4 linked regions of the Homo sapiens genome follow. The protein of the gene in region 1 purifies or fractionates together with the protein of each later gene. This does not show direct contact. Each region holds a gene or a part of one and is shown on either strand. Other genes may lie near its edges.

The links.
Region 2: the proteins of CFAP74 (region 1) and HCN4 purify together in Homo sapiens (co-immunoprecipitation; one large-scale study listed by IntAct). This does not show direct contact.
Region 3: the proteins of CFAP74 (region 1) and SPTB purify together in Homo sapiens (co-immunoprecipitation; one large-scale study listed by IntAct). This does not show direct contact.
Region 4: the proteins of CFAP74 (region 1) and KATNIP purify together in Homo sapiens (tandem affinity purification; one large-scale study listed by IntAct). This does not show direct contact.

Annotation. Positions count from the first base shown.
Region 1 is NC_000001.11:1,964,361-1,970,093, reverse strand, and holds part of CFAP74 (cilia- and flagella-associated protein 74), read left to right. Parts: intron 1-1,260; coding exon 1,261-1,459; intron 1,460-3,567; coding exon 3,568-3,723; intron 3,724-5,032; coding exon 5,033-5,206; intron 5,207-5,733. UniProt on the Homo sapiens protein: As part of the central apparatus of the cilium axoneme may play a role in cilium movement. May play an important role in sperm architecture and function.
Region 2 is NC_000015.10:73,340,524-73,346,256, reverse strand, and holds part of HCN4 (potassium/sodium hyperpolarization-activated cyclic nucleotide-gated channel 4), read left to right. Parts: intron 1-1,072; exon of another isoform or gene 1,073-1,201; intron 1,202-2,448; coding exon 2,449-2,872; exon of another isoform or gene 2,873-2,987; intron 2,988-3,761; exon of another isoform or gene 3,762-3,944; intron 3,945-5,191; exon of another isoform or gene 5,192-5,244; intron 5,245-5,733. UniProt on the Homo sapiens protein: Hyperpolarization-activated ion channel that are permeable to Na(+) and K(+) ions with very slow activation and inactivation. Exhibits higher selectivity for K(+) over Na(+) ions.
Region 3 is NC_000014.9:64,868,933-64,874,665, reverse strand, and holds part of SPTB (spectrin beta chain, erythrocytic), read left to right. Parts: intron 1-1,987; exon of another isoform or gene 1,988-2,344; intron 2,345-5,733.
Region 4 is NC_000016.10:27,751,451-27,757,183, forward strand, and holds part of KATNIP (katanin-interacting protein), read left to right. Parts: intron 1-268; coding exon 269-474; intron 475-2,722; coding exon 2,723-2,801; intron 2,802-5,733. UniProt on the Homo sapiens protein: May influence the stability of microtubules (MT), possibly through interaction with the MT-severing katanin complex.

The sequences.
Region 1 (5,733 bases):
GACCCCCCACCCACGGGCCCCACTGGGCTTCCTGAGATCCAGACCTCGGGGCCAGGTTCCTACAAGGCCCCTCTCTCCCGCTCAGTCTCGCCTTTCCCAGCCCTGCCCGTAACGCTCCCCAGTGACCTCCACGCAAACCACCCTGTCCTGGGTTTTGCCCGAAGCTGCCCTCATCCCGGGAGCCTGGCCCTTTCTCCCCATCCCAGTCTCCCTGTCCACGGCCCTGGCCAATCACTGCTTAGGATCTGCCTGGGCGGGGGCTCCTGGCCCTCTCACTGGGCAAGGCATCCTCCTCTGGGTGCCACAGAGCCCTGAGTGCGTCCTCCCCACCCCCCTGAGTCACGATCAGAGTTCTCCACCACCCATCAGCCTGCCCACCTGGGCGGGGGGGTCCTGGCAGCAGCTCCACCGCCTATACATCCCTTAGCCTGGCGCAGGCCTGGCATGTAGGAGGCACCCGGGAAGTGCAGCTGCAGTGAGTGGATGAACATCTTTAGCCCTGGTGCTACTCTCAGTGGCAGCCCCACGCCAGCCTAGAAATAAGGGCTTGGAAGAAGCCCTCCGGGCAGCCAAGGCTGCTGGGGGACTGGGCTGCGAAGTGGGCAGGGCTGGGCCGGGCAGGGCTGGGCTGGGCAGGGCTGGGCAGGACTGGACTTGGAAGGGATGGGCTGGGCTGGGCAGGGCAGGGCTAAGCTGGGCAAGGCTGGGCTTGGCAGGGCTGGACTGGGAAGGTCTGGGCTGGGCTGGGCAGGGCAGGGCTGGGCAAGGCAGGGCTGGGCAGTGCAGGGCTGGGCTGGGAAGGCCTGGGCTGGGCAGGGCAGGGCAGGGCTGGGTTGGGCAGGGCTGGGCAGGGCTGGGTTGGGCAGGGCAGGGCTGGGCAGGGCTAGGCTGGGCTGGGCAGGGCTGGGCAGGGCTGGGCAGGACTGAGCAGGACTGGGCTTGGCAGGGATGGACTGGGCAGGGCAGGGCTGGGGTTTAAGCCTGGAACCTCTGGCTTGGCCTCTGCCCATCTGCTTCCCACTGGAGCTTGCGTTTAGCTCCAGGACCAGGAAGTTCCCACCCCAAGAGCCCTGCTGGGTAGGATGGAGTCCCCAGGAGGGAGCTAGGGAGGGGCCGCCAGGCGCTGTCTCACCTGGGGCTGCTGGGCAGGACCGGAGCCCCCAGGAGGGCGCTAGGGAGGGGCCGCCGGGCACTGTCTCATCTGGGGCAAGGTGGAGGCAGGGGACCTCTTGCACTCATCTGAGAAGCGACTCCACGCAGGGCCTTTGAGGAGGAGCAGAAGCTCAGAAAGCAGGAGATCATCAGTCGGATTCTGAAAGAGGAGGCTGAGGAGGAAAAGAGGAAGAAACAGCATCCCCCCACCAGTGCCAGGCACCGGCTGACCCTGAGGGACAAGACCTGGAACTACATTTCTGACTTTTGCAAGAAGACCACAGTCCCAACCAACACGTACACACTGGTGAGCAAAACGCCTTCCTGTAGACAGAAGCCGCACACCTGTGGAGGGCAGGTGGGGCCTCAGGGCTCAGGTGTGGTGAGACATCCTCTGAGGACCTCAGCACCATGGCCACCTGCAGGGGGTTGCTGAGCCCGCTGAGTGGCCGCCACTCAGCTCAAGGACAAGGGGACAAGACACACTACGGACCCACCACATGAGAGAGGCCCATGGCCGCAGCATCCCCAGCAAGGGTCCAGTGTCCTCCTGGTCTCGGTGTGCCCACCAGACCCTGCGTCACCCCCAGCAGTGTTGCTGCCCACCAGGCTGGGACCACCTTGCCTGGCCCTGTAGAGCTGGGTCAGCCGCCTGCCAGGGAGATGTGCACAGCCGTTCAGACCACATGCCTGGGATCACCCTGCTACAAAGCACTCCTGATAGCACCTAGAGGACAGCTTTCCTATCACTCATTCATTCACTCACTCATCCTTTATTCGTTCACTCACTCATTCTTTCTTCATTCATTCACTCACTCATTCTTCATTCATTCACTCATTCATTCACTCATTCACTCTTTACTCATTCACTCATTCATTCACTCACTCACTGATACACTTATTCATTCACTCATTCACTCATTCATTCACTCATTCGCTCACTCATTCACTCATTCATTCTTTACTCATTCACTCATTCACTCACTCACTGATTCACTCATTCATTCATTCACTCACACATTCACTTATTCACTCACTTACTCATTCACTCACTCACTCACATCCAGGGCCTGCTTGGTGTCCACTGCTGCTGCAGGCAACTGGCTTCAGTTGGGGGAATGTATTTCTAGTTTACCTTTCCCTAAAGGTGTGGGGTAGGGACGATGGTCCTCTCCTGAGTCTGGCACAGTGCTGCAGTCTCTGCCCTTGTGTACCCCAAAACCTGAAGGTCAAGGTCACTGCTGCAACCGATGCCCTGCTGGGAAAGAGAAAGCCTTGGGCTGCCTCAGCTTTGGCCTCCACAGGGTCTCTGCGGTGCCCTTCAGGGCACCAGAGAAGGTCCTTTCCTGCTACCCAGGCTCCCAGTGCCTGGGCTGAGCCTTTGCCCCATCCACCCCTCACTGCCCGTCTCACGCCGGGGCCTTTGCACCCGCCGATCCCTCCGCCAGGAGCACCCTGCTGCGCCTCCTTGCTCCAGAGAAGCCTCCCCTGCCCCCACCCCCACCCGTGAGCTGCTCCCTGCGATTTTCTGTGGCACCACCTGTGGCACTATACAGGTCACAGTAACAGCAATGCGCTGGCCCCGTCCAGACTTCCTGTCTGTCGCTCCATAGGACGGTCCCCAGGAAGAAGAACCCTGTCTACCCGGCCCAGTTCCCCCTTCTCCAGCAGGCCTGGGACAGAGCCAGAGCAGATAGGCAAGGCTCCGTCCCCAAACTCATTCTGAGGAAACCACCACAGCCATCCTCCTGGGGTCAGCCTGGGGCTTTTCCCGGGCATGGCTTATATCCACAGAAATGAGAACTGCGCCAGGCGCGGTGGCTCACACCTGTAATCCCAGTACTTTGGGAGGCTAGGGTGAGTGGATCATGAGATCAAGAGTTCGAGACCAGCCTGGCCAACATAGTGAAACCCCATCTCTACTAAAAATACAAAAAATTAGCTGGGTGTGGTGGCGGGCGCCTGCAATCCCAGCTACTCGGGAGGCTGAGGCAGGAGAATCATGTGAACCCGGGAGATAGAAGTTGCAGTGAGCTGAGATCGCGCTGCTACACTCTAGCCCAGGTGACAGTGCAAGACTGCGTCTCAAAAAAAAAAAAAAAAATGAGAACAGATGAGTGCCTGAGGATCGGCGCCAAGGATGCCAGTCCGTGAATTAGAACATTTTCCTATCAAAGGAAATATTTTGCAGACTCTTCTGAGCATTGTAGAAAAATATTTAATAATGTATTAAAATACTTATATTTCAAGTAGAAAAAGTTACAAAACCGTGTGCACCGCTATCTCCATGCAGAGTACGTGAGGCAGAAGAACGGGGGCAGGCAGCGGGCCATACCGGCGGGGGCTGGGCCGAGTTTCTCTTCCCTGTTCTCTGTCATGAGCGTGTCTTTGCGATGTTCCTCTCCCCGACTGCAGGACTACGAGGCTGCTGCAGGCCCCGGGCCCTCTCGGTTGCTGGAAGTCGTTTCCAGTGAGCTTATCCAGGGGGACCCCGGGGCCAGCTCAGAGGAGGAAACGTTAGCTGAGCCCGAGATCTCTGGGCTTTGGAATGAAGACTACAAGCCATACCAGGTATCAGCTCCTGCTCCTTTAGACGCTTGCAGACGGACCCCGGCCCTCTGTCGCCGGCTCGCCACCTCCCACGCCTGCCCCGGCCACACCAGCTGCTCTGAGGCTTCTCCTGGCTGTGCCTGCCATCTCCCGCCACCCTCTCCTGTGTGTGGACGCCCCCCGCCTCCCTCTCCACACTCATGCCTTTCCCTCTTCGCGGAGCCTGGAGGGCACCACGCGTGCTCGACGACCCCAAGCTCCCCCTGACAGACAGCTCGGTCACCATGGTGTAACGGGGAGGGACGGTGGGGCTCCAAAGCTGAAAGGCTGAGGGAATGACTCTGAGCTACTCCGTGTACTATTGGAGAAGCATCTTTCTAGAAGAAGCGTGCAAACTTTCTTTGACGGCCTTTTGTAAGAAACATGCCCCATCTGGCGCTGGGGTCCTTCTGCCTCTGAAAGAGCAGTTACAGCAAGACACGGTCTCTGCAGCAGTGTGGCTCAGGCTGTGGCCCTGTCCCACGTGGGAGGGCAATGCCCGCCGCCCGGTTTCTGTAAGCATTGGCCACCTCTACTGTCAGGGCAAAAGCCACCTGGTTCTGCTGGTTCTGGGGATGCCGGGCTGACCAGGGTGGTGAACAAGACAGGCCAGGCAGAGCCACCACCTGCCCACTGGGGACACCCAAGGGAGAAGGCTGCCTCTGGACAAGAGGAGGGTGCCAAGTGCCCCCCCCACCCCGGGAAGCCAGGGAGGAGGCTGCCCGGCTGCCGGGCATGGGCACCAGCAGGGACAGCCCACAGCCCAGAGCCAGGACCCACGCAGAGTCCAAGCAGCTTCTGAAGGGACAGTTCAGGACTCCAGTTCTGATCTTCCTGGTTGCTGGTGTTGGCCAGGGAAGCGGCTTTTCATCTGAGAAAGCCCAGTGTGTGCTGACACTGCCCGCTCGAGAAAACTGCTTCCTGCAGAACCTTTCAAAACCTTCCTCTTGTCCTGATTTAACAATCTGGAAAGTTCCCCCTCCACATCATTTCCCAGAAATCCACCTGAATCTGGAGCTGTCTGCTCTTGTTTCCTGGTTTCCTCTTTTTTGGAAGTGAGGGGTCCCTGCCTTGTCAATGGAGCAGAAAGTCAGTCGGTCCCCAGGGCCTTTCTGAGCAACTCAGAGCAACTCCCCGGGCCATGGGGCTCTTCCCAGCTCCAGCGCTGGTGGCAGCCGGTGGGGCTGGGCTGTCCGTGCTCTGCTAACCGCTACCCTCGCCTCCGAGCTGCCACCGGCGCCGCCCAGGTGGAGCCGCTAACAGCCCCAGCCTCTGTCTCTGTGACCCCCAGGTGCCCAAGGAGGACGTGGACCGAAAGCCCGTGGGCGGGACAAAGATGGACAAGGACATCCTGGAGCGCACGGTGGAGCGGCTGCGGAGCAGGGTGGTCCACAAGCAGGTGGTGTGGGGGCGTGAGTTCCAAGGACGCCCCTTCAACAGCAAACCGGAGCTCCTCCACTTCCAGGTGAGCCCGCAGCTGGGCCAGGAACGGGACGGGCAGCAGCACAGGACAGCAGGGGAGCCCTGCCGCAGCCCAACCCCTGACACCTTTTGCTTTTTTTTGAGATGGAGTCTCACTCTGTCGCCCAGGCTGGAGTGCAACGGCATAATCTCAGGTCACTGCAACCTCCGCCTCCTGGGTTCAAGCGATTCTCCTGCCTCAGCCTCCCGAGTAGCAGGGATTACAGGCGCCTGCCACCACGCCTGGCTAATTTTTGTATTTTTAGTAGAGACGGGGTTTCACCATGTAGGCCAGGCTGGTCTCGAACTCCTGACCTCAGGCGATCTGCCCGCCTCAGCCTCCCAAAGTGCTGGGATTGCAGGCATGAGCCACTGCGCCTGGCCTGCCTTTCGCTTTTTAACGCTGGAAAACCCGGGGGCTTCCTCAGGAGGCACAGGCCCAAGTGTGGACCTTCTCTTCCAGGAGGTGGAGGGAGAGGGCCCCATCCCCATGGAGGGCTGGACGCCAGTCTGAGCAATGGGGGTGCCGTG
Region 2 (5,733 bases), on another chromosome or scaffold:
CCATGGAGCAGGAATCGAACCCTGACTTCAGGCCCATCCCTCCTCCCACCATATTATACTGTCTCTCCAGCAGCTCTGTGATGTTCCAGGGTAGTGGTTTGTGGGAAAGAATGATCCAGGATCCCGACCCCAGCCCAGATCGAGTGCTGGAAATATCCCTGAGCATCTGGAAGCTCAAGATTGAAACCATTAGTCAGAGTGCGAGGAAATGGGTGTTTTTGCCTTATGCAATTTGGTTTTATGAAGACCACAAAATGCAAACATTCTCCTGTTAATTACTCTCTCAAATTTGGACTGTAATTGAGGGAACTAGAGCTGGGGAGAGTGTAGAAACCCGTTGGAGTGGCAGGCCCGCCCGAGTCAGCATTCCCAGCCGCCTTGCACCCGCTCTGTTAATTTTAGAAACTCCTCCAGCCTGGGTGTATTATTAGCTTTATGTACAGAGGGCCACATAGCCCTCAGTGGCCTTTCTATGCACAGTTAAAAAATTTGTTTTCTTTTGTTTTTCCCAGGAGATTAAATGAAGAGGGATGACAGCAGAGTGTATAGAGGGGTGTTTGTGCACTGTGTGTGTGAATGGGGATACCTGCGTGTGGCATCTAATGAGTGTACACAGCTGTCTTTGAGTGAGGTCTATGTGGCTGGGTAGAGCATGCACGGCTCTAGGGCACCCCATAGATGCTGAAACCATCCTCCTGGGGCCCATGACTCATTAGCAGGTGTGCTGCATTCTTTGTAGTAAAGTGTGAAGCTGAGGATGGGTCCTCAGGCCTTAGTTGGGTTCTCTCAGCTGGCATATGGGTACTGGGGCCACAGGAAGGAGTGGTGGGTCATGGGGTAGAGAGGAGCTGAAGTTGGCCTCTTGGCATCCGGCCTTATCCCCCATAAGGCCCTGTCTTGAGGCCCTGAAGAGCTTGGCTTTCAAAGGAGCTGCAGAAAGCTGACTCTCTGGAAACTGCCCTTTGCCACACAGTGTGATGTAGGACAGCCATCTCACCCACCTTCAGCAAAACAGGCCCTACCCTCTCCTTGAATCACAGCCCCATTTTGAGTCTGGCAAACAAACAAACAATTTGCTATGAAGTAATTTCTTTGCAACCTGGAACTCTGCAGGCAGGGGCACTTTGGTTTACAGTGAGACCCTCTGAAGACTCGAGGAAAGCTTATCTCTTTCTTTCCCACTTCCTTCCTCCTGGCTTCCCTGCAGTAAAGAATCAAAGATGGTGGAAAGGTTATTTCTCCTGGGAGAAGACATGCTTATTTCTGCCTCACTTAATACCTTTATCTGTTATTGTGTAAATGTCTAAATTAATAGCAGAGGGAAACAGCTCTGCAGTGCAAGTTTTTGGTCTTGGGGCCAGCCCTGGGATGGCTGGTGCTTGGGCAGGGTCCCTGGGAATAACTGGCCATGCCTTCTGGATTGGGGTCTTGGCCACCTGTGTTGTTTCCACACTCCAGAAGGCCCCCTGCTTGGTGAGTTGGGAGAAACCCACCACAGACCTGTGAGTTGGTGTTGTGCCTCCTCCTCATGCTGCTCAACTTCTCCAAGGCTTTGCCCTGAGGCTCCCTCTACAAACGACTTGAAGGTGCCTGAGGCCTTAGGAGAAATGATTCTGGAAGCCCTGGGCTGGTCTCTTTCTATCACATTGAGTGGTATCTCACTGGTGCCTGAAATCCCCCCATTAATTATTCTTGTTTTGAAGCTATCTCTCCCCCTCCACACCCCCATGTTAGGATGCAAACCTCTGAGGGAAGGAGATGGTCAGACATTTTCTGATTATAGGGGATGGACTAAAGGTGGATGCCAGAGAACCAGTTTGGGAGAGGGCCAGATCAGAATGATAGGACTCATTACACAGTGAGGAAACTGAGGCCCAGAATAGGGAGGCCCTTCCGGATGTCACATAGCATGTTGATGACAAAGCTGGGGCCGGAGCCTGGGCCTCCTGCCTTCCAGGCACCTGAGTCATGTCTGTACCTCCCCTGCTCTTTGGTCATGGTCTGTGGAATGTCTCCCTGACAGCCCATCTCAAGCCACAGCTGACCCTCAGGGAGGATGGGGCAGCCTAGCCTGAGCCTGGGGTGGTGTGGGGTGAGCTGCTCCTTTTGCTAAAACAGCCTCTTGCTTCTCTCTGAGTGTCACTGATTTGCTTTTCAGCCTGACTCTTACTGCGGGCTGGGGATGGGAGGAGGAAGCTTGTTGTTGGGGCTCGGGGAAACTCACAGAAGGGCAGCACGGAGGGTATCCTTAGTGAATGAAGAGCCTCTTATTGTGTCATTCCCTGTGCCAATCTCCACATCTTGCCCTGGTACCCATGTGCCTGTCTTCCTGTCTCAGAACCTCCCAAGACTTCTCTGTCCCAGATGCTGTCCCTCAGATCTTCCTCCCTTAGTCTGTAACTTGTCCTCTCTCTCTTCCTGGCGACTGACCCCTGTGTCTCTGGGCAGATTTTACTGGGACCTGACCATGCTGCTGCTGATGGTGGGAAACCTGATTATCATTCCTGTGGGCATCACCTTCTTCAAGGATGAGAACACCACACCCTGGATTGTCTTCAATGTGGTGTCAGACACATTCTTCCTCATCGACTTGGTCCTCAACTTCCGCACAGGGATCGTGGTGGAGGACAACACAGAGATCATCCTGGACCCGCAGCGGATTAAAATGAAGTACCTGAAAAGCTGGTTCATGGTAGATTTCATTTCCTCCATCCCCGTGGACTACATCTTCCTCATTGTGGAGACACGCATCGACTCGGAGGTCTACAAGACTGCCCGGGCCCTGCGCATTGTCCGCTTCACGAAGATCCTCAGCCTCTTACGCCTGTTACGCCTCTCCCGCCTCATTCGATATATTCACCAGTGGGAAGAGGTAAGTGGTCAGTGCAAACCTCTTGGGGGAAAGGCCACTCCCCACAGAGGGAGTGAGGAACTGGCAGGGAACCTCAGATAATTGAACATAGGCTGTCAGATTGTGGCAGGCACACCTGCTCCAAGAGGACAAATACTAGTAAGTTCTTGACCTCTTATCATGTGCTGGATACTTTACATGCAGTATCTCAATGAAGTGTGTAACAGCTATAGAGGGAACCATATAGGTACATGTATATACTCATTTTTCACCTGAAGAAACAGACAGAAATATTAAGTGACTTATACAAGGTTGCATGATTAGTAATTTGTGAACCTGGAATGTGAACTTAAGCCGATCACCTCTAGAGCCCACATTATTAACCACTGCGTTATGTTGTAGGGTTTGTAAACCCATAAACTTGTTGGGGACAGGCAGGGAATAGGGATGGGTGAAAAGGGCCAGTTGGGGGACAGTAGACAGTGTGGTGGATGAGAAGAACTAGAGAACATCTCCGTTATATTGGGTGGCCTCTATGCAGCTCCAGCTAATTTTTGTCAAGTGGGAATGGGCCCAGGGTTGCTAGATCTATAGCATTATGAGAAATGGAAATCTGGATTTTTATACAAATTTTGTTGGCAACTCTCTTAGTTTGGGTTCTTCCTGAGCAGAACCTGAGACAAAGATTTGCATGAAAGGGATGTTTTGGGGATGCATTCCCAGGAAAATCTGGTAAGGGGACTGGGGAGAGGGACAGGGAAAGGCAGGAAGCCAAGCAATGGTTGGACATTGGAGGGTGTCCTGTGGATGGCTGTTTGCCTCAGCCCTATGGGATCTGAGGATAGTGTGCGCCACACCTTGGAGTTGTCCCAGTCAGGGCAAGGGAGTTGGAATGTTTATATCCCCTTACCTGTCAGTCATTGGTTCAAGGCACTGCCAGCCCTCAGCACTCACAGCCAAAGCAGTTTCCAGCAGCCCGGGCAGGCCTCTGACAAAAGGTGCGGCCGCTGGCTGTAGAGAGTGAAATCACGCGGGCAAGTTGGAGTCTTGTGCTCAGAAACTGTAAAGGGATCCTAGGGGCTGTGAACACTGGCTACAGGAGGAAAATAAAACATTGAAAAAGAACTGGGCGGACCAACTGCATTGTGAACAAACCTCACTCATCCATGGGCTGAAGCAGTCATCTGCAGCAGAGGAGCTAAGGGCTTTGCTGGGAGGAAGAGCAGCTGACCTTGCCAAGTGCTTCGGTCTGTGTCTGCCACCCACCCAAGTTACACAACTTGGCAGCAGCGGCAGGCAGGCCAGCCTGGAGGGCCTACTCTCTCTGTGAGACAGCCCACCTTGGATCCCTGCCACCTGTGGGCGGGACAAGCTTCCATGGAGGGCCATTTCCCGCTCCATCCCTGTGCCGCGTGGCTGACTTCCCAGCCTCCAGGACCCCCTGCTTGCCTGGCAGAAGTTCCCATGTTCAGGACATGAAGCCCCCCATGCTCACCCCCAGCAGCAGCCTGGGCCTCGACTGGCAGCACCTATGGCTGATGGTCAGAGGCGTCATGAACGCATGTGCCATAGGAGAAGTGTGTGCACCAGTTTGGCAGCGTCCCTCCATGGCAGAAATTCTCTTTGGCTTGGAAAATTCACATTACTTATGCTGACAGAGAGGGGCCGTGACTCTCCCAAGGTCATGCAGTTAGACCTCTGGTAGAACTGGGACAGAATCCAGCTAGCCCTCTTGGCCCCCAGCACATAGTGTGGGCTGTCCCACCCCGGTGTAGTGGAATGGCGCATTTAAGACCCAAGTTAAAATCCCGGCTCCACACTGCCTAGCATGTAGCTTTGGGTCCACTTTGCCTCTCTGTGCCTCAGTCTCTTTATCTGCAAAATAGGTATAAGTTGTACCTGATGTTTATAAAGCCTTAGCATGAAGCCTGGTGCAGAAGAACTGTTTAATATGTGTCCCTCCTGGCCGGGCGCGGTGGCTCACGCCTGTAATCCTAGCACTTTGGGAGGCCGAGATGGGTGGATTGCTTGAGGCCAGGAGTTCAAAACCAGCCTGGCCAACGTGGTGAAACCCCGTCTCTACTAAAAATACAAAAAATTAGCCAGGCGTGGTGGTGGGCGCCTGTAATCCCAGCTACTCGGGAGGCTGAAATAAGAGAATTGCTTGAACCCAGGAGGCAGAGGTTGCAGAGTGAGCCAAGATCGCACCACTGTACTCCAGCCTGGGCAACAAGAGTGAAACTCCGTCTCAAAAAAATAAATAAATAGATGTTATTTATATTTATAATATATATATATTTATACACACACACACACACACACACACACACACACACCTACCTCCCTCCCCACCAAGTTGTCTTAGTAACATTTCCTTGGTTCCCCATACTTAGCTGTCAAGAGAAACAGGGCAAGATTTATGATCCTCATGTGTCAAGTGAGGAAACTGAAGATCAGAAAGGCCAGCCGCCCCAGTGGTAGGGCTTTTGGCCTAGGCCTCCTGTCTTCCTGTTCCATGCACTTCCCGCCTTCTCAGATGGAAAGGGAATGACTTTGATTCTACGATTGTTTCCTTTCATGGCTGGGGCCCCTCCATGGGGGACTGGACTTCATTCAGTCCAGCAAGTGCTTGCCGGGCACCCACCTGTGCTGGCCTGGGTGGGCGCTGGGATCAAAGGACTAGGACGACTGTTGGCAGAGAGTGGGAGGGCAGTGGCAGGGGAGGAGATCTGTGCAACAGGTTGAGTTGGAGGTGCCTGTGAGACAGAGATGTGCAGAGATGTGGCAGGTGGTCTGAGCTGAGGGCTGAGAGGGGACAGTGACTCTGGAGGGTGCGGCTGGGTCCACTCTGAGGGGCTGTGAAGGAAAGATGGAGGCGTGTT
Region 3 (5,733 bases), on another chromosome or scaffold:
ACCAGAAAGAAGTCTGTAACCTTATTCTGTCCCTCTTTTGAGTCCCAGCCTGTTTCTAGAAGAACCCTAGGAGTGGTCAATTAGCTTCATCTTCCAGTATATTTCCAGAAGGGTGGAAAAGCAAGAAAAGGCCTTTCATAATACTGACTTCGAGTCATAAGTCATAGAGAGTTAGAGGTAGAAAGGCCCGAGAGAGAATTGAGGTGTATTCAAAAAGAGCAGACATTGGGTGTCTACCACGTGTCTTACACTGTTATGTGCTGAAGACACACAAAGAGATCAGATGGAGAATCACTGATCTGGTGCGAAAATGGCCTTGCAAACAAGCAGTGATTCAACAGGATGCCTGAGAGAGAGGGTGTACAGGAGGAAACATCTCATTCAGGTTGGGGAATGAGAAGACCTTTGAAAGTGCCTAGGATTTCTATAATGGAAGAAGGGAGGATGAGGGGGCCTGCGAGTGGGGCTTTAGGAAATTGCCCAGCACAGACAATAAAGCATGATTAGGTTAGGGGATGAAGTGTAGTTCCACATGGCAGAAGTGTGACCAGAAAGGTGGTTGGGGTTCAGCCTGTGAAGAAGTTTGAGCCACTGGAAGTTTTTAAGTCATAAAGGGGTGTGATGAAATCTTTGTTGACAAAGCTCACCAGTGGCAGTGAAGAGAAAGTGAATTAGATCCCAGCCAGTACAAGATGATGATCACAGATAACTATAGTCCACTCAATTTTCAGCATGCCTTTGTCTACACATCATCTTATTTTATCTTATGATGAGCATGTGAAGGGAAGATCTGATTATTCCTGGTTTCCAGTTACAAAACAGGATTAGAAATGTACATTTATATACTCAATGTCCCTCTAGTAGTTTATTCCAAAACCTGACTTTGACCCAGTTGCCTAGTTCTGAGGCTGGGGCTGTTTCCAGGTCTTCTCAGTGGAGTAATTGAATATTCTGGGCCTTCTGGTTGAGACCGCGGTTGCTTTTTTTCTTCAGCAGAATATTCCACATAAGTTCATTGGTTCTGGAGAGAAGACACTTGTTAATGGTATTACCCTTTACCATAGCCACAGAACCTCAAGAATGGCCCTCCAGAGTATGCACAGATGCTGTTCCAAAGCATGAATTAATGGATTCTCAGTAGCATGCCATAGATAAATGAAGGGTTCATCTGCCCGTTAATTGATGTTTTGGGTTTTTCATTCCTTTACCCCAAATTTACTGGGCATTATTGTGCTTATGCTTCATTTTGGACTTCAGCAGCCTCTTTTTGTCCAGTGATCTTGAGGGCCTTGATTTGTATGTCAGTCTTCAACAAATATTTACTGAGTTCTCATTTAATTTGCCAGACATGCTGTAGGCCCAGGGAATGTAACAGTGAATGTGGCAAAAATGTCTGAAGTCGTAGAGTGCACATTGTAGTTGGGGGAGAGAGGAACTAAATGACAAGCAACAGACAAAAATATATATTGTAATTTCAAGTGCTAAAAAGAAAAATAAAGCAATATGAAGGGAAAGAAGGGTGGTTCTACTATTTCAGGTAGGGTGGTTGGGAAAACACTATCTGATGGGGCTTCATTTGGGCTGAGACTCAAATGAAGTGGGGAGAGAGGCATGGGATGTTTGGGAGAAGAGATTCAGGTTGAGTGGTAGTCTGTTCTCACACTCCTAATAAAGACATACCAGAGACTGAGTAATTTATAAAGGAAAGAGGTTTAATTGAATCACAGTTCAGCATGGCTGGGGATGACTCACAATCATGGCAGAAGGCAAAGGAGGAGCAAAGGCATGTCATACATGGTGGCAGGCGCATGTTCAGGGGAACTGCCCTTTATAAAACCATCAAATCTCATGAGACTTCTTCACTATCACGAGAACAGCACAGGAAAACCCACCCCCGTGATTCAGTTACCTCCCACCGGGTCCCTCCCACGACATGCAGGGATTATGGGAGCCGCAATTCAAGATGAGATTTGGGTGGGGACACAGACAAACCATACCAAATGGGAAGCCCCCAACGTGGGGCCACTGCTGTGTCCAAGCAATAGCAAAGAGGCCAGTGTGGCCTGAGTGCAGGGTGTCATGGGGAGAGCTAACCACAGTGCTGGAGAGAAAAGCGGGTCTTGATGGTGCAGGCTTTGTGACCTTTGAGTTTTAGTCCAAGTGTCATAGGAAGCCACTGGAAGTTGTGGGCAGGGGAGTGACTTGTTGGGATTTGTGTCTCAAGCAGATCTTTCTGGCGGCCCTAAGGAGGATTGATTGTGGGGCACAAGAGTGGAGGCAAGGAGTCCCATGAAAGCTACTGCGGTGGTTCAGGACGAGAGGATGGATCAGGATGATAGTCCTGGTGAGATGCAGTTGGGTTCTGAGTATAGAGATTATGAGATTTGGATATAGAGGATGAGAGAAAAAGAATAAGATGATTCCATTGTTTTTGGCCTGAACAACTGGATGAACAAAAAGGTCGTTTACTGAGATGGTGATGTATTTTATCAAATGTACCATGGGCTATTTTTTTTTAATTTCTGTTTTTGTCGAGGTGTTGACTTGGAATAGTCTTGGCAGACTTTTCATTTAAATACACCAAAAAGGAGATGTTTTTATTTTGGGATGATTCATGACATCTGTTTGAAGCGAAGCTTTAGATGTGCTGTGTACTTTGTACTGTTACTTTTAGATCAGTCCCACAACGTTTATACTATGTGATGGAGATTAAGATATGGGAGAAACAAGATTGAAATATATTTCACTTTATTTTTAGAAATGTTTTGAATTGGCTGGTTAAAGCCCAAATATTTTTTGATGCTTCCTGGTTGTCATATTTAAAAAACTTTTTAAATTATAAAATAAACTCATGTACGTGGTTAAAACATATATCCATATTATACAAGGGTATACAATGAAGAGTAAAAGTCTTCTCCTAACTTCAGCCCTATTTCTAAGAAGGTACCACTGTCAACAGTTTCTGTGTATGCTTTGAGAAGAATTCCATTCATGTGCAAGCATTTGGCCTGATACATTTTAAAGTCATAGCTTTAAGCTAGCAGCACCACGTGTTAGGTTTCAGATTTAGTAGACTTTGTAGTCACCTTGGTAGCCCTCAAGTTAAGCGACCTGGAGTCCACTTTCTATCAACTAAGGATCTCCCTCTCCAAACCATCCCACACTGAACCACTGTGTTCATCATATAACACCCCTTCTCAAAAGCCACCAGTGGTTCTTCTCTGGGTAGAGGTAGAAATCCAAACTCATAAAGTTGGCTTTTAAGGAGCCATTCTATTCTGGCACCAGTCTCTTTTTTTCTACTCTTTTACCACTTTCCATCACAAACCCTCTACTTAAACTAAGTTTGTCCACTTCTGCTTACTGAGTCCTGACCATTTCTCCCAGATTTGGAGTGTTTTCCATCAGAACTTGGGTTCGAGGCTGTGTCTTCGTCCTGGAACACTCCACTCCACAGTAATCTCTCCCTTCTTCAAACTTGCTAAATTAGGGCTAGATACATGCACCCTATTTGAACATAATCACAAATTCTTTTATTAACTTTCTTTGTATATGTGTATTATTTGCTCAAATATATGTGACATAAATTTTACCATTTTAACCATTTTTAAGTGTACATACAGTTCAGTGGCATAAGCACATTCACATTGCTGTGCAGCCATCACCATCATCCCTCCCCATCATCATGAAAAAGATGGACGTTTTTCATCTTCCAAAACACAAGCACTGTGTCCACTAAACACTAACTCTCCATTCCCTCTCCCTCCATCTGTCTATGGACACTTGGGTTGCTTCTACTCTTGCCTATTGTGAATAATGCTGCTGTGAACATGGGTGGGCAGATATCTCCTTGAGACCTTGCTTTCACTTCTTTTGGACATATACCTAGATGTGAAATTGCTGGATCACATAGTAATTCTATTTATAATCTTTTAAGGAACCCGTCCATGCAATTTTAATATTTCCCCTTGGTATTTAACATCTCCAAAGGGAAGGGCAAAAATTTATTATCCTCATTTTGGGGGCCAAACTGAACTTGAGAAGTGTTTGTTTCAGAACACTGTCTTTGGGTGATAGTTCGTCATCAAAGTTCTTGAATTTGTTCATTTATTAGTGTGCCTGTTTTTAGATTGTAGACTTTTAGAGGACAGGCAGGTGATGTTTAATTTGCTTTGTAGAGCATGTAGCCCAAGCTCAGGTGGGGAAGGGTGTAAATATTATGCGATGTTTTATTTCAGCTAAAAAATCTCCTTGAGCTGGATGACAAGAGTCTGGGTTGCTTCCAGCTCCTTTCCTCTTGCTGTTTGCCCTTGGGTGAAGAACTTCCTCTTTCTCTGACTTTTTTTTTTTCAGGGCTTTTTGTGTGTGTGATTGTGATGGTGCCTTAACATTTATTATTATCCTTAAAATTTTCCTTGTGGATTCCTCTGTAAAACTTACATGTTGCCTTCTCTTTGTAACCTTGCCTGACAGCCCCTCTTCCTTACCAGGTCCTGGGGTAGCGCTGATTGCTTCCTCCTTTGTATTTTTACAGTACCCTTTTCACTCCTTTCTTACAGGTGGATCATCTTGTTTTGTAATTGTCAACTTGCCTTCTACACTGTTAGTTCAAGCTTCTTGCAATGGGGAACTGAGTCTCATGCTTAAAAACAAAACAAAACAAAACCTCTGCACCTAGAGCCATGTTTTATACATGGAGGGGAGTGGCTCAGAAATATTTGTTGATTAAAAAATTAGGCTGGAAACATCAGCTCATGCCTATAATCCCAGCACTTTAGGAGGCTGAGGTGGGCAGATCGCTTGAGCCCAGGAGTTTGAGACCAGCCTGGACAACATAGCAAGACCTGTCTCTACAAAAATTAAAAAGAAAAAAAAAAAAGCAGGGCATCGTGGCACGTGCCTGTAGTTCCAGCTACTCAGGAGGCTAAGGTGGGAGAATCACGTGAGCCCAGGAAAGTTGAGGCTGCAGTGAGCCATGATTGTGCCACTACATTCCAGCCTGGGTGACAGATTGAGACCCTGTCTCAAAAAAAAAAAAAAAAAATTTAAAAAATCTGACCAAGCACAGTGGCTCACACCTGTAGTCCCAGCTGTTTAGGAGGCTGAGGCCAGAGGATTGCTTGAGCCCAGGAGTTCAAGGCTGCAGTGAGCTACGATCATGCCACTGAACTCCAGCCTGGACTACAAAGTGAGACCCCATCTCAAAATAAATATATTAATTAAAAATTTAAAAAAGAATAAAGAATCATGTGGCCAGTTAGCTCAGTTGGTTAGAGTGTGGAGCTCATAAAAAATTAAAGAATGAATGTTTGAAATTACACGTAACTAAGTTCATATAATTTTAACTTGGATACAAGGCATTGTTATGCTAATAAGTTTATTATAACAGTAAGTCAACATTTATTGAGAAAGTTATGTGGTAAGCACTATGCTGAGAGTTTTCATGTGTATTTATTATTTACAATCAGACTTGGAAAAGTTAACTTACCCATGAATACCCACCAAGTAAGGTAATAGCTGGACTTGAACCCATGTGTGTTTATTCTAGAGTGCTTGCTTTGAACCACTGTGCCTGCTCATATTGGGGTGGAAGCCAACACTACATGACTCTTAATTCTCAGCGTTTCTTTTTTTTTTTTTTAATCCTGCATCTTTAATGATTTGAAATTACAGAGGTAATTAGTTGCATACCTTTATATATTGCTTTATATTTGCAATGACTAAACCTAATAG
Region 4 (5,733 bases), on another chromosome or scaffold:
CCTTGCCCACCCCAAAGAAATGTCACTTGCCTGATGACATATCACAGTGATTCTCATGAAATTAGATCCCTTCCTTAGATCCATGTGATGCTTATGGTCCGTGCATTCCATTTGCAAATCTGTGAAGACTAATAAGGCTCACACTAATCAATACCAGTTAAGGGTGTGGGGTTGTACAGCACAGAAGTGGATGGGTTTAGGCTCTTGATCTACAAATCTCTGGGATGTGAAGTGAGTTGACCTTTCTGTCATCTTGATAACCCATTAGCCCCAGAGCACTTTGGAGACACGATCTTATTCACAACCGATGATGACATTCTCGAGGCCATATTCTATTCTGATGAGATGTTTGACCTGGATGTGGGGAGCCTGGACAGCCTGCAGGATGAAGAGGCAATGAGGAGGCCCAGCACGGCCGACGGCGAGGGGGATGAGCGGCCCTTCACCCAGGCTGGCTTGGGGGCTGATGAACGGGTAGGACTGGAGCTGGGGGGCTGTGGGGGGACCCCCAGATAGGTTTCTTCCCCTAACTCAGAGTAGAGCAGGGAGAATTAAGATGGATATCCTTTAAGCTGCTGGTGCCACTGTGTTGACATTTCCCATCTTTCTACTTTGTTTTTTTGTCCTCTATGTCATATTTCATTCTCTAATTATTTTTATTTTTTTATTTTTTTTTAACCGAAGTAAAGAAAGTATTCAAATTCTAATCAAAGCCAGGAGAAATGAGCTCTGTGTCATCTCTGCAATTCAGAGGTTGGCAGTCTGGGGGGAGTTTTTGCTTGGGGTTGCGTTTTGATCATTCACTGTTGTTTTTGATGGAAGGACTAGGAATGCTTTTCATAGGCAGAGTTACAGTTAAAATAATGATCATCACAGCCATGGTTTCATGAACACATATCATGATCCAAGCAGGGTACACAGTGTTCTTGTTTCACCCTCATGACAACCCTCTGAGTAGAGACTATTAACATTGCCATTTCGGAAACTGATGCTCAGAGAAGTCAAGTGACTTGCCCAAGGGCACATTGTGACAGAGAAACAAGGGTAGAACTTGAATGCGTGATTCCACAGTTTATGCTTTTAATTGGTAAGCAACTTATTATTTTTTTATTTTGTTTAGAGATAGGGCCTGGCACTGTCGCCCAGGCTGGAGTACACTAGCGTGATCATAGCTCATTGCAGCTCAAACTCCCGGGGCTCAAGCAATCCTACCACCTCAGCCTCCTGAGTAGCTGAGACTACAGTGCATGCCACCATGCCTGGCTAGTTTTTTTTTTATTTTTTGTAGAGATGTGGTCTTGCTATGTTGCCCAGGTTGGTCATGAACTCCTGGACTCAAGCGCTTCTCCCACCTTGGCCTCCCAAAGTGCTGGGATTACAGGCAAGAGCCGCCACACTTAGCCAGATAAACAAATCTTTTAAAATGAAAGATGACCTTCAAGGTCAATTCAAGTCAGGACCAATAGGAAAAAGAGGAGATGGTTAAACAGGGTAGGGGAGAAATGGGGACAACACAAGCCACAAGGGATGGGGCTGGGCTGTGGGAAGGTCATGACTGAGGCAGGACAGCAACATGTCGTGTGGACCCCATGGTGTTCCCTGGGGATTGTACCTCGCAGCCAGGCAGAGCATGGGGTGCAGGAGCAGGGCATGGGGAGGCACAGGCAGCTGGGGAGTGCGTGCCCCTCCCCCTCCCCACATCTAAGGAAAGCGGCCACCAAGAGGGGCAAGCCCATTGTTGCCAGTTCTCCTGATTTTTACAAGAGAAGCCAGAAAGCTGGATTTTTCTGTAAAACCTCTCCATTTAAAAATGCTGGCAGTGAATTCAGATGTGTTCAAACCTTTTTTGGGCCACAAGCCGTGCCTGTGCTCCTGATTCGACCCAGGGGTCTCCAGGTGGGAGTCTACCCTGGGCGCTTCCATTTGCCCAGCGTTTTCCAAATGACAAAGGTGCTCGTAAGGGACTCTGATGGGCCCAGCGCTGTGAGGGGCTGGGGGGATCACTCTCTCAGTCTCGTGAGAGACCAGCGCCTTCACTTATGGTGCAAAGAGACAATGAGCAAATAGTTTATATGTAAGGCCCAAGAAGGGTGTGGTGGCCCACCGTTGACTCTCTGAAGACCAGGATTTTTTATCCTGGCTACCCGTGGAAATCACTTGGGTGGATCTTTAAAAATGTCTGGGCCCCACCCCTAGAGATTCTGCTTCAGTGAACAGCCAAAGTTAAGAGCCACTCTCTATGGTTTGAATTCTTCCACTTCCCCTTCCTTCCTTCCTTCCTTCCCTCCCTCCCTCCCTCCTTCCTTCTTTTCCTCCTTCCCTCCTTCCTTTCCTCCTTCCTTCCTTCCTTCCTCTCTCCCTTCCTTCTCTTCTTCCCTTCCTCCTCCTTTCCTTCCTTCCTTTCTTTCTTCCTCTAGCTCACCACATAAGCATTTATTGAGTCCTTCCCTGTTGGAGGAAATTTAAACACCTTAGCTGTTAGCATCAGGCTCCTCCCCAGCCAGTGAGAGCTGCTGACAAGGATGCAGACCCTGGAGGGTCAGGGTCCGCCCATATCACTGGTCCCATAGCTTCCACAAAGGCAGAAAAATCCAGGAAAACACACAAGGACTTACCTGGGCATAGGGTGGGCAGTGGTAAATGCAGAAACAGCCAGCCAGCTAGCTGTGTGGGTATCACTAAAACCACCCCCTTTTCCTCTGCTTCTCCAACCCATGTGCAGATCCCGGAGCTAGAGCTCCCATCCAGTTCCCCTGTCCCCCAAGTCACCACGCCAGAGCCAGGCATCTACCACGGAATCTGTGAGTAGCTCTCCTGGAGCAGTGTTGGGTGGAAGGAGGACCTTCCAGGGACAGGGGGAGTTGTGGCCACTTGGGACAGGGTTTCGCTGGACAATCGGGTGGGTTGGACACTGTACAGAGACACCAGGCCATGGGGCAAGTGGAGGCTGAAACCAGCCTGCGCTCAGCTCCCTGGCCCTAGCAGGGCCACCTCACTCCAGAGGAGGGGCATCTCTTAGCATTTTGCCTTCCCTGAGGGGCATTTTTGCATGCAGACACCCTATGTGTTAGCTGTGACCATGACCCTGACCCAGGAGGTGTAGTTGGCACCCAGAAAGTGTAGAACAAGAGGACATTAGAGCCTGAAGAGACCCAAGGCATCTGTTGGTGCAGTGCCCCGAGCTGTCTCTTCCAACTCCACCAAAGAGTAGATGCACAGGCAGAGAAAACCTGCATCCACTCTGCCCCGGGGGTGGGGGCAGGTGCACAGGCCCAGGGTACCAGGTCTTCTGACTTTTCAGAAGAAGTCGGAAATCTAGAGTCTTACGTGAAGTCTCCAGATTCTCAAATGTGTGTAACGAATTTTCTCATGTTTTAAAATATCACATGAGCCAAATAAAACACTTATTGTGTATCTGGCCAGCTGGCTGCCAGTTTGTGACTTCTGAGCAAATCCCAGGGGTTTTCTGCTGGGCCTGTTCCTCACCCTTCTTTTCCATTGATCCTTCCAGCCAGTTCCTCTCTTCATCCATGCGTGTCCACATCAGCCCCTCCCCGTCCTGGGGAATCTTCAAGCCCAAGGTCACTGCTGATTGTGATCTCCTCCCTCCTGCACCCTGCTAACCAGGTTCCTGGCAGCCTCACTTCCTGCTCTCTCCTGCCCCCTGTGAATGTGACCCGCTTCTACTTTATCTTCTGAGACAAAAGATGTGACACTGTCAGGATCCCCTCCCCACCTCCCCATCCTCATCTCCAAAATGAAGCTGGAGCCTCTCCGAATCCTGGTGTCAGCCCTTCCGGGACCTCCCCATGCCATCTCTGGAGTCCACCTGCAGGCACCTGTGCAAGCCACACCTTCCACCTAGGATGCCTCCCTGCTCCATCTCTGCCTTCTGACGACCACCTGTCGCTGGCTAGGTTCCCTAGACACAGACCCTGAGATGGAGTTTCCTGGGGTGTGCTCTTGTCAGGGAAGGGTAGGAGGCAGGATTGGGCAGAGGGAGAAGCTGGTCTGCGGTTCAGCCACTTCAAGGCCTCAGCCTGCTCCACAGGGAGCTCGGAACCTGGGATGGCCCTTTGGGGTCATCCTGAGTTGAGTGAGGGGCCATGTCTTTATCTGTATCAACATGGCACTGGCTATGGGCTGCCCCTGGGGAGGGGCATGGCTTTTTATTTTACTTTTTAATTTGTATTTATTTATTTTGACACAGTTTTACTCTGTCGCTCAGGCTGGAATGCAGTGGCATGATCTCAGCTCACTGCAACCTCCGCCTCCCAGGTTCAAGAGAGCTCCTGCCTCAGCCTCCCAAGTAGCTGGGATTACTGGTGCCCACCACCACGCCCGGCTAATTTTTGTAATTTTAATAGAGACAGGGTTTCACCATGTTGGTCAGGCTGGTCTCGAACTCCTGACCTCAGGTGATCCACACACCTTGGCCTCCCAAAGTGCTGAGATTACAGGCATGAGCCACTGTGCCCAGCCGGACATGGCTTTTTGCAAGGAGACTCTCTTCAGCCAAGGGCAGTCACAAGTCAAGAGCCTCAGTGGTGAGCTGCCAGCCGTCAGCACTTCCCGCCACCAGAGGACTAAGTCCTTCTGTTCCTGGGGGTGGGAGGTGGGGTCTGAGCAGTGCCCTAAGTGAGCTCCACATCCCCTCCCTTATGGCCCTTCTGCGACCGCATCTCCTCCCCAGGAGTCTTCTCTATCATCCCCTGTGAAAATTCATCTCTCCTTCACCTACTCCAAAATGACCAATGATCTCTTAGAAGGTGCCTTAGAGGAAGGTGCCTTATTTGGAATTCTCATAGCCCCTTACATTCCAGGGCGCACTCTCAATTACTTTCGAATAGCAGCAGTTTTAAAGGCCAACCTAACATTAGGCAAGAGCCTGGGTTGAGGCTTGGTTTCATCTCCCAGACAGGCACTGTGCTGGGCTTTCTCTGCCTTATCTCGCTGTAACACTCCTAGCTCTGTTTTCCATGAGATCAGGCAGCTGAGGCTCAGAGAGATGGAGTCACCTACCTAAGGTCACACGGCCAGTACGGAAGCTGGGAGTGCAAGCAAAGGTGTTTGAATCCAAAGCCCACATCCTCACCACACTAGCAGATTGCCTTAGGGTTGCCACTGGGAGAGCACCTCACATCAGAAGCCTGTGTGCAAGAGTCAGTGTCCCCCATGAAGCTGTGAGGTCCCAAAAGACAGCCATCGTTTTTTATTCAATTTGGTTCTCCCCTAAGTTGGTCAGGATTTTTTTTTTGGCAGGGGATGAATAATGGAAATTTAATTCAAGCTGAGTTCAGCAAAAAAGGGAACTTATTGGCTTATGCAACTAGAAGTTAGGGGTCGTCAGTTTCCACACAGCTGCGTTCAGTTACGAAAATGATGGCATCAAGACATGGTGTCTGCCTCCCTCTCCCTGCTTTCTTTTCGTCTCTTGACATTCTCCCATTCAACACCATCCATGTGGAAAGTCCTGGAAGCTCCAGTTTATGCCTCCTTTCTACCCAGCAGTCCCAGATGAAAGACAACTTCTGTTTTCCTGAATCCCAATAGTTGCAACTACTATCCCAGAATTAGATCTCTGGGCCTAGCTTGAGTCATGTACCCATTCTCTTTTTTGTTATTTTCTTTGCTTGCTGTTATTGTTGTTTTGAGACAGGGTCTCACTCTGTGGCCCAGGCTAGAGTGCAGTAGTGCAAACACAGCTCACTGCAGCCTCATACTCCTGGGCTC